Homo sapiens: one gene and its partners. The protein of the gene in region 1 interacts with the protein of each later gene in a pairwise test. Each region holds a gene or a part of one and is shown in the gene's direction. Other genes may lie near its edges. The genes, in order: ALG13, EIF4ENIF1 and CPSF7.

What was found.
Region 2: the proteins of ALG13 (region 1) and EIF4ENIF1 interact in a two-hybrid assay, tested with the Homo sapiens proteins (one large-scale study listed by BioGRID).
Region 3: the proteins of ALG13 (region 1) and CPSF7 interact in a two-hybrid assay, tested with the Homo sapiens proteins (one large-scale study listed by BioGRID).

The regions. Positions count from the first base shown.
Region 1 is NC_000023.11:111,705,053-111,708,705, forward strand, and holds part of ALG13 (UDP-N-acetylglucosamine transferase subunit ALG13), read left to right. Parts: intron 1-2,974; coding exon 2,975-3,341; intron 3,342-3,653. UniProt on the Homo sapiens protein: Catalytic subunit of the UDP-N-acetylglucosamine transferase complex that operates in the biosynthetic pathway of dolichol-linked oligosaccharides, the glycan precursors employed in protein asparagine (N)-glycosylation.
Region 2 is NC_000022.11:31,451,760-31,455,412, reverse strand, and holds part of EIF4ENIF1 (eukaryotic translation initiation factor 4E transporter), read left to right. Parts: intron 1-97; coding exon 98-277; intron 278-1,036; coding exon 1,037-1,269; intron 1,270-3,653. UniProt on the Homo sapiens protein: EIF4E-binding protein that regulates translation and stability of mRNAs in processing bodies (P-bodies). Plays a key role in P-bodies to coordinate the storage of translationally inactive mRNAs in the cytoplasm and prevent their degradation.
Region 3 is NC_000011.10:61,409,435-61,413,087, reverse strand, and holds part of CPSF7 (cleavage and polyadenylation specificity factor subunit 7), read left to right. Parts: intron 1-1,150; coding exon 1,151-1,319; intron 1,320-1,982; coding exon 1,983-2,145; 3' UTR 2,146-2,150; exon of another isoform or gene 2,151-2,507; intron 2,508-3,653.

The DNA.
Region 1 (3,653 bases):
TTTCATATAAATGGAATCATATTCCTTTTGAAATCATACAGTTTTTGCTTCCATCTTCTTAGGACCAGTTTCTCCAATCCTTGTTAATGCTTGTTACTGTCTGTATTGTTTATTACAGCTATCCTGGTAGGTATGTAATGATGTCTTATTGTGGTTCTAATTTTCATTTTCCTAAAGATCAATGATTTTGAATATCTTTTTATGTGCTCATTAGTCATTCTTATATCTTTGGTGAAATGTGTATTCAAATCTTTTGTCTATTTAAGAAATTGGATTTTTTTTATTGTTGACTTTTCAGAGTTCTTTATATATTTTGGTACAAAGTTTTTCTGGTTAGATATGTGATGTAAAAATATTTTATTCCAGTCTATGGCTTGTATTTTCATTCTCCTAACAATGTCATTTGCAGAGCAAAAGTTTTTAATTTTGATAAAATCGAGTTAATTTTTTTTTCTATTATGTATCTGAGAACTCACTGCCTAACCCAGGATCTTAAAGATTTTCTCCTATGTTTTATTTTTTAAAATTTTGAAGTTTTATTTTACATTTATACCACTTTGAGTTAATTATAGTACAAGGTGTGAGGTATAGGTTGAGGATCCTTTTTTTTGCATGTGGATGGTCAATTGTTCTGGCACCACTTGATGAAAATGCTATCTTTTTTCTATTCAACTGATTTTGCACCTTTGTCAAAAATCAATGGACCATATTTGTGTGGATCTACTTCTGTGTGCTTCCCTGTGTGTTAACTTTTCTCTTGCTCTGTCTCCTTTTGTCTTCCTGTCCCTACTTGTGTTTTTTTTTCAGTTTTCTATTACTTTTCTGATTCTCTCCCTCCTTCTCCTGATTTTCCCTTCCCCCATTCCCTTCCTCAAAATGAAGCATTTAGATTGCATTGTTTTATATATCATACTTATTTTTAGTTTAAAAAGCAGATGTGAAGCATTTGTGTTTTTCTTTACAAGTACAATATGCTGGAAACAAATTAACTTTTAAATTATAATCCCTTTTTTTTTTTTTGAGACGGAGTCTCGCTCTGTTGCCCAGGCTGGAGTGCAGTGGTGTGATCTCGGCTCATGCCATTCTCCTGCCTCAGCCTCCCAAGTAGCTGGGACTACAGGCGCCCACCACCACGCCCAGCTAATTTTTTGTATTTTTAGTAGAGATGGGGTTTCACCGTGTTAGGCAGGATAGTCTCGATCTCCTGACCTCGTGATCTGCCTGCCTTGGCCTCCCAAAGGGCTGGGATCACAGGCGTGAGCCATTGTGCCTGACCAAATTATAACCCTTAATTAATTTTTCTCAGTGAATTAGTGACCTTAACGAAAGATGGCAATCTCTCTTCCCAAACTGTGTGTTTCAGAACTTCTGCAAAAGGCATCACTTCTCCAGTGTTACAGTTTCTTTAAAAAAGAAATTAGTGGCTGGACATGGTGGCTCATGCCTCTAATTCCAGCACATTGTGAAGCTGAGGTGGGAGGATAGCTTTAACCCAGGAGTTCGAGACCAGCTGGGCAATGTGGCAAGACCCCATCTCTACAGAAAATAGAAAAATTAGCTGGGTGTGGTGGTGGCATGCACCTGTGGTCTTAGCTACTTGGGAGGCTGAGGCAGGAGGATTGTTTGAGCCCAGGAGGTTGAGGCTGCAGTCAGCTGTGTTCACACCACTGCACTTGCACTTCAGCCTGGGTGACAGAGTGAGACACTTTAAAAAAATAAAAAGAAATTAAGGTAATTTCAAATTGGCATGCAAAGGAAGTCAAGATTTATTCCTTTTTTACCATGTCAAACATTATTTCATTCCCAAATTATAAAATATTGCTGCTTTTCCTAGAGGGAGCAGTCATGATTACTACTGGATCCACAGATACAAAAAAAAAAAAAAAAGGAAAAAACAATTTTGAAAGCAGCTTAATGTTGTGCCTTCTCTAAAGCCAGCTTTTGACCTATTTATTTTTAATACTTAAAAAATGTAAGAAAGGAATTGGATTTTTGCATTTAAATAAAAATAAAAGACACTAGATAGTATAGATAATAGGAACAAATAAAACAAGCAATTGGGCCTGCCTTTGGCACTTAGTATTTTCTTTGGTTTTCTCAGAATCCAGAGTAATGTGTCTGGAAAAGTACACTAGTAAAACATTGAAACACATCTCTCATTGTCCAACTCATCTCATACTCTACCATACCATTTCAAATGTAGTCTATCCATTTGTGGATATTTTCATGCTGCTTCCATTTAAATTTTTATTTCCATTTTTAAAGAAACACACTTTTTTGCATTTTTCTTTTTTATTGGTGCCATATAGTAGTTTGGAGGCATTAGTCAAGAATTGTATAAAGTTTCCCTAGCATGGCTAATAAGATTTAGTTTCTGTGATCCTGGCAGAGATTATTATCTAGAATTAAATGAGAAGATTACTTCAACCCTATATCTGAAATATCCAGGTAATAGCCTTGGCACTTAGCTTGAACTGTGCCCTCTGCCGCTATAGATTAAGGGAAGTTCCTTCTCCTTTTTTGTGTTTATTAAAAAGGTATTAATGCAAATGCTTACTGGTTAACTAGGTTCATGAAGATTCTGTCCCTCCATGTTTCCCTGAAACTATGAAAGGAGCAGGGAATTTGGGGAGAGACTGTAGTTGAAAATTCAGCTAGAGATCTTAAAGCAATTCTTCAAGCAATGTAATGTGGACCAGGCTGCATCCTACACACCTGAGCCTTATTGTAGTCCCTTTTCAGCCTCGTGCAGCAGTTGCCCCGAGTTAAGCTGCAAAGTCAGTTTCCTTCTAGACCCAAAGCTCAGCTGCTTATGCATACTTTTCTCAACCTTGGTCTGATTGGGTTAGATTGGGTTAATTCCACTCTTTCCCAAGGAGGTAACTCTAAGTACTTTCTCCCTCCCTCCCATGTCTCCTGCTTAGTCTGAGTTCCCTATTCCTAGGAGGATTGGCTCTTCCTCTTCTTTTCACAGGGTCCTGACTTGTCCTGGGCAAGCCAAGTCCATTGCTTCTGCTCCTGGGAAGTGCCAAGATTCTGCAGCGCTGACTTCAACTGCCTTTTCAGGCCTAGACTTTGGGCTGCTTTCCGGATACCTGCATAAGCAAGCCCTTGTTACTGCTACCCATCCTACCTGCACCCTGCTTTTTCCCTCTTGCCACGCTTTTTTTCCTCTCCCTCTTACCCCCACCCTGTACAAAATGCATAAAGGATGGAAAAACTACTGCAGCCAGAAGTCTTTGAATGAGGCATCAATGGATGAATATTTAGGCAGCTTAGGGCTGTTTCGAAAGCTGACTGCCAAGGATGCCTCTTGCCTCTTTCGGGCCATTTCGGAGCAGGTAAAAGGAAAACATATCTTCCCTGTACTGAGTTTTCAGAGTTTGAGACATGGGATGGTCCTGTAGTTTGCCAGAAGAAACAAAAAAATTCCCCTGCTTTCTAGTGAAAACATCGGGCCTGTCAAGGTCCTAGAGAGAAGCTGCCTGCTCTTATTAGCTTGGTGCATGCCTTTGCTGAATAGTCTATATTGCTGAACCTTTGCTATCTTTTCTGTTTTTTTAAATGCCAGTTTGTAATGTAGGAGGGGTAAGATAAGGAGGCTAAAGACAACTTTGAAATATATCTTGATCCTTTGTAAGCATCCCCTGCTT
Region 2 (3,653 bases), on another chromosome or scaffold:
AAAAAAAAAAAAAAAAAGAAAGAAAGAAAAATACTGTCGAAGGCATGTTTCTTTACTGGAACAGATTAATTTTGAGTATGTTTATTTGCAATATCAGGTCTGGAGCAAGCCATCCTCTCTCCTGGACAGAACTCGGGGAATTACTTTGCTCCTATACCATTGGAAGACCATGCTGAAAATAAAGTGGATATTTTAGAAATGCTACAGAAAGCCAAAGTGGATTTGAAACCTCTTCTTTCCAGCCTTTCTGCAAATAAAGAAAAACTTAAAGAAAGCTGTAAGTGTTTATGAATATCTGTTTTAGATATCTGAAAAGGTCTAGATGTTCAGTCTTCAGGCAGTTGGGTCTAACATAACCTCTGTTTCATAAAAAGTCAAATATATATTGGGTTTTTGTTTAATGTTCTTTTTTAAAAACTCATTTCATCAAACAATACCACCTCTTTGAGAATCTCACAGTGGGTCATGAGCCCTATGAGAACTTTTCCTGTAAGTTCTTACCTAGGGTCTGGTTGTAATAATCCAGTGAATGTTGAAAACAAACTCCAGTGAATGTTTTATTCCTCCAGAGCATAACTTACCATTTCCTCACAAATCTGCCCTAGTCTTCCATGTTCTTGCTTAGGCTATAAATTCTCAACATAAAAACTTAGTGATATAATGACCACGGTGCAGGCAGCAATCTTGGCAATGTTGGGCTATCTGGGATTCTTGTCCCAGGTAACAAGTCTCCCAGAAGACTCATATCCTTCTGCAGGATGCACAGCAGGAGCTTGTCAAGTTTTAAAGAATAGCACTTCATAGTTGTGGTCCCCCAGTTTCTAGCATCTAAACATTTTAGGTTTAGTTTATGCCATCTCTTAGTACACAATTTGATTTTAAGTGTTATTAGTTTATTTTTGGTGTCAGTCTTTTCTGACAGTCTCATCTCAATTTTGAAATAAATTATTTTCATCTTATCTGTCATACTAGCCAAAGAGAATTCCTACCAGATATCTCTTTGCTTGATTTAACCTGGACGTTCTCAACTTCTCAGCACATTCAGGGGTTGTGCTTTCAGTGGAGGAGGTAGAAGCAGGTCTGAAGGGCTTGAAGGTTGACCAGCAAGTGAAGAATTCAACTCCCTTCATGGCAGAACACCTAGAAGAGACCTTGAGTGCCGTAACCAACAATCGACAACTGAAGAAAGACGGAGACATGACTGCGTTCAACAAGCTAGTGAGCACAATGAAGGCAAGTGGGACTTTGCCTTCTCAGCCCAAAGTCAGCGTAAGTATCTGACACAAACCCCCCACCCTTTTCTCCTTTTTTTTTCTTCTTTTTCCCACCACAATAAAAGGATTTTTAAAAAGGTATTCTGAGTAAGTTGGAAATTCTTTAGTAGTCATTTGGTCCTTGATGCTTTTGTGTGTTCCTTAATTATTGATATGCTATTTGTTACTGGAAAAAGCAGGCTTGTGGTTAATTTATATGTATTGTGGGTGACAGTATAAAGATTAAAAGATTCAGTCTTAATGGTAATGCCTGTATAACTTTAAGTCACTGCTAAAATGAGGTATAAAACTATCTTTTTGGATGAACTCCAGAGACAATTTTCTTGTTATTCAGCTACTTAAGTTCATATTCTTTACCATATTTGTATAGTAAAATCTTTATTCACATCTTCTAATTATTCCCAGATACCAGGGATTACCTGCATTCTTGCAGTCATACAAATCATTTGTAAAGTATCTAAGATGGGGCTGAGCACAGTGGCTCACGCGTGTAATCCCAGCACTTTGGGAGGCTGAGGCAGGCAGATCACCTGAAGTCAGGAGTTTGAGACCAGCCTGGCCAACATGGTGAAACGCCATCTCTACTAAAAATAAAAATTAGCCAGGCGTGGGGGCATGCGCCTGTAATCTCAGCTACTTGGGAGGCCAAGACAAGAGAACTGCTTGAACCTGGGAAATGAAAGTTGCAGTGAGCCGAGGTCACGCCACTGCACTCCAGGCTGGGCAACAGAGTGAGACTGTCTCCAAAAAAAAAAAAAAAAAGTAAGATGGGTTTGTCAGGATAATTACATTCTGTCAATTTACTAATGGAAAAAGTTGTGGCTCCAAGTTAAAAACAAAACTTGTAGGCATGAAGTTAGGTTACAAGGTGACACAACTGCATATCACCTTGTAAATGCAAATGTTTATAATATACTGGTTCTTTGTCCTAACAATTTTGAGAGGGTAGTTCTTACCCATAGCCTATGTGTTAATATCACTATCTCTTGATACAAACTAATGTGGAAGCAGGGTAGATATGAATAATAAAAACATAAACATGGACTTATTCTAGTTGCTAAGTTATAGCAAATTTACCAAATTGAGTTTTCTCTCTTTTTTTCCTGTTCCCTGCTTGCCTGGGAACTTACCAGTTAGCCAAGATGCAAGTAGCAATAGCTGTTTGAATCATTATGTCTTATACCAAAAGAAAGCAACTGACTTTTAGCATTCCTTATCTGACCAATAGGACAGACAGAGGTTCCATTATTCCTTAGTGCCAGGACTGACCTACACTTGAAAGGAGGCACCTCAGATAGGTAGACTGACTTCTTTGTATCTGACCACACCATACCAGTTGCAGGAGAATGTCCCTGTAAAACTGCTTTAGAGTTACTTTTATACAAAGAATTATTAGATACAAATGCTTTCAAATGAAGATCAGACTGAAAGATGGTAGACTATCCTATTTTCCTTTCTCGTTACATTTGTGTCTTGGTGATTGGGTGCTGACTGCAATGGTGTGGTTCATATCTTATAATTAGCTTCTTTCTTTTGGTGTGAGCAACTAAAAATATGGAAGGGGGCATTCAGCAGTTTACCTGATGTTTTTCCACATTTTATTGCAGATATGATTCTAGGATTTGATATTAACACAATTTACTCGAGTTGTAAGGGCAGTTGGTTTGATGTTGGGGTTTTAGCACTCAGAAGTGTATCTGGTTTTAGCTGAGCAAATGAGCCTCAAACACCTGCCAAACGGATGGATGACACATTCAAGTGGCTAGGCAAAGGCTAAGACAAACTCAGCTAGCAGGAAAGAATACAACAAGGAAAGTAATGGAGTAAGAATAGCAGGTGTTATCTCAAAATATTGCTCAATTTGCATGTTGTTAAGTCATGGTTTACTTTTTGAATTCGGTGTCTTTAATTACTACTGCTGTGTATGTTTTGTATACTATTTCTGATCTGCCTCCATCCATTTAGGTTGTCATATTGGTTCATCCAAAAATAATACATGCTGGTTCAATCTAAATTCTGTTTTAAATTATAGATTCTATCCTCCAAGTATAATAAGCCATGCAGTATAAAGTTGTCTATTTGTTTTTATTAGATGGAAGTAAATGACTCTTAAAGAGATTACTTATAAAATCATCTGCCTTTAGTCCCAGTTCCAAAATCAACAATAAAATACTTGGGTATTCTTGAGCTATTTGTCATGCCTAGACACTGCTTTGGACTTTGACAGCTCCATCTAGTGGAAGGGAAACTACACCAGAGAAAGCACTTCACACAGAGCTAAATGGGCATAGGGATGTCCTGAAATGCAGGAGGGGACTCCAGGTTGGATGCACAAAATGTAACCACTGGCCAGGCCTGGTGGTGTACACCTATAGTTCG
Region 3 (3,653 bases), on another chromosome or scaffold:
AAGCCAGGTGAAGTGGCATGCAGGAGGATGGCTTGAGCCCAGGAGTTCAAGGATGCAGTGAGCTATGATCATACCACTGCTCTTCAGCCTGGATGATAAAACAAGACCCATCTCAAAAACAAAATAGTCCTCTATACAAGGACCATCAACCAATAAGACCACCTTTTATAGTTTATATTCCTCCAGAATTTTTTCTATGCATATGACAATTTATATAATTTTTATTGTTTTTACAAAAACAGGATATGGTTTTGAAACTTGCTTGTTTCAATTAGTATATTCTGGACACCTATTATATCAACATATAACATAACATTTATTGATCCTTACTGTGTGCCTGGCACTGTGCTAAGGGCTTTACATGGATTACTTTGTTTACATACAGGTTTACCTCCTGCTTTTTTAATTGTTAATAGTACATTAATAATGTAATATTCTGTAGAACCAATGTTCCTTTATATAGCCAGACCCTATTGAAGATAATATAACAAACAACACTGGCCGGGCGCAGTGGCTCATGCCTGTAATCCCAGCACTTTGGGAGGCCAAGGCGGGCGGATCACAGGGTCAGGAGATCAAGACCATCCTGGCTAACACGGTGAAACTCCGTCTCTATTAATAATACAAAACATTAGCTGGGTGTGGTGGCAGGCGCCTGTAGTCCCAGCTACTCAGGAGGCTGAGGCAGGAGGATGGCGTGAACCTGGGAGGCGGAGCTTGCAGTGAGCCGAGATCACGGCCACTGCACTCCAGCCTGGGCAACAGAGTGAGACTGTCTCAAAAAAAAAAAAAATGAAAAAAAATAAACACTAAAACACTGTTAAACATACACACTTGTGAACAGAAGTAGAAAATTTTTAATAGAATTGCTGGCTCAAAAAATATGCACATTGTTTATTTTAATAGATGTCAAATAGCCCCTGGACAACAGTGTGTCAGTTTGTTCATCTGACAACATCTGTTAAATTCCGAACTGCTGGAATATAGGTGTCATCCAGTTTTACACTTGCAACATCTGCCTTGTCTCTTTTACCGCGGTTGTTTGGGACGGCTAGCTACTCTTGGTTTGTGTCTGCCTGAGTTCTCCTTTTGGTCCAGTTAGTTTACCATCTCTCCTCACCCTTGGCCTTTCTCCTTCATCCTTTATCAGGGGATTACAGTGACGCAATTGAGACGCTGCTCACAGCCATTGCGGTTATCAAACAGTCCCGGGTTGCCAATGATGAGCGTTGCCGTGTCCTCATCTCCTCTCTTAAGGACTGTCTTCATGGCATCGAAGCCAAGTCCTACAGTGTGGGTGCCAGTGGGAGCTCTTCCAGGTGAGTTGGTGATTGTGTCCTCACCTACCAGCCCCAAGCAGCACTCTTCCAGGGATAGGGAGTGGGGACAAATGGAGCCCAGGGAATCTGGGAAAGACCTGGCCGAAAGTCTGGACGTTAGCCTTCATGTCTTTTTGGGGAAGAAACTAATCAGATGCTTTCATTAATAAGTGTTGTAACATCTGGAATCTGGTGGGTGAGGCAGTGGGCTCATGTAGGAAAAAATACAGACAGATATTTTTAAGAACATGGGTTTTGGAGCCCTACAAGCTTGGATTGGAATCCCAGTTCTGCTGCTAACTATCTGTATGACCTTCTTGTGTATGGAAGTTAGTCAACTTTCCAAGCCTTATTTTTCTCATTTTCTAAAAAAGGGACACTGATAGTATTTATCTTACAGACCTGTTGTAAAGATTAGGTCAGATAATCCATACAAAATTATTAGCACTACACCTGATAAATTAGTTCTCAACAGATAAATTTACCTGTTAATCATCTTCCCAAAAAAGAGTAGTCCTCAAAGAGCTAAAATCCTCAGACAGCAGGCCCATGATAGAGTAATAGAGGAATAGTTTAGGCAAATATCAGAAGACACCAAAACACCACATTCTTGGAAAGAAAGTGGTAGGCCTTCTGAGTGAGGCTGAAGGATCTTTCTAATAGGAAAAGACATCGCTCCCGGGAAAGGTCACCTAGCCGGTCCCGGGAGAGCAGCAGGAGGCACCGGGATCTGCTTCATAATGAAGATCGGCATGATGATTATTTCCAAGAAAGGAACCGGGAGCATGAGAGACACCGGGATAGAGAACGGGACCGGCACCACTGAGAAAGGTGGGGAGAAGCCCCGTTCCTGGCTGCTGGGGGATTTTTTATTAAAAAAAGATTTATAGTGAAGAATTCTCTCTCTTTAAAGCAAAAGTAAATGCAGCAAGGGTAGGGGGAACTTCTGATTTACATAACTGGAATTTCAGGGCAGATTTTCTGCACATTTATGGGGAGTCTTACCCTGAGATTCAGCTGTTTCTGCTTGTTTCTTGACTGCCTTAACCTGGTATCTGAGTGAGAGTATGGTGTCTGCATTCAGGTACCAATTTGAATCCCAGTTTCTCCACTAATAATTGGCCATATTACTTTCTGTTCCACAGTTTCATTTGTAAATGAAGATAATAAAAGCAACTGTCCCAGTGACTTGCTAAGTTTTAGTGAGAGAGTCCATGTAGACCATTTAGCACTCATGGTACCTGTCACATAGTAAGTTCTCAATAATTAATAGCCATTGTTATTATCATTATGAACTTTCAATTTAAATTAGGAAAATTGACTAAGAATAGTAAAGCCATTGCCACTTAGTTTTCAAGCTGCAACATTAATGATTTTAAGAATTAGGCTTGGCATGATGGCTCACACCTATGATCCCAGCACTTTGGGAGGCCAAGATGGGAGGATTGTTTGAGCCAGGAGTTCGAGACCAGCCTGGGCAACATAGGGAGACCCTGTCTCTACAAAAAATACAAAAATTAGCCAAGTGTGGTGGTCCCAGCTACTTAGGAGGTGGAGGTGGGAGGGTTGCTTGAGCCTAGGAGGTCGAGGCTGCAGTGATCTGTGATTGCACCACTGCACTCTGGCCTGAGCGACAGTGAGACCTTGTCTGAAAAAAGGTAGGGAGGAGGGGCGGGTGGGTGCCTCATGCCTGTAATCCCATCACTTCAGTAATTTGGGAGGCAGAGGCTAGAGGATCACTTAAGCAGGAGTTTGAGACCAGCCTGAGCAACATAGTGAAACCCTATCTTTTTTTTTTTGAGACAGAGCCTCACTTTGCCGCCCACGCTGGAGTATAGTGGCATGATCTCAGCTCACTGCAACCCCCACTTCCCGGGTTCAAGCTATTCTGCCTCAGCCTCCCCAGCAGCTGGGGCTACAGGCGCGCGTCACCACGCCCGCTAATTTTTCTGTTTTTAGTAGAGGCGGGGCTTTACCATACTGGCCAGGTTGGCCTTGAACTCCTGACTTCGTGATCAGCCCACCTTGGCCTCCCAAAGTGCTAGGATTACAGGCGTGAGCCACCATGCCTGGCCGAGACCCCATCTCTTTAAAAAAAAAAAAACGGTTTATTTAAAAGATTTTGAAAATTAATATGCTTTAGTCAGAGAGGAGAAAGCTGATCTGAAAAATTATCTTTAACAGGTTTAGAGGCTTTGTGGTGGATAATTAACTTCAACGGAAGGGTTTTTTGCTTTTGGAAAAGACTTAGTGACAAGGTTGTTTATTTTGTTGTTGTGTTTTTTGTTTTGTTTTGTTTTGAGACAGAGTCTCACTCTTGCCCAGGCTGGAGTG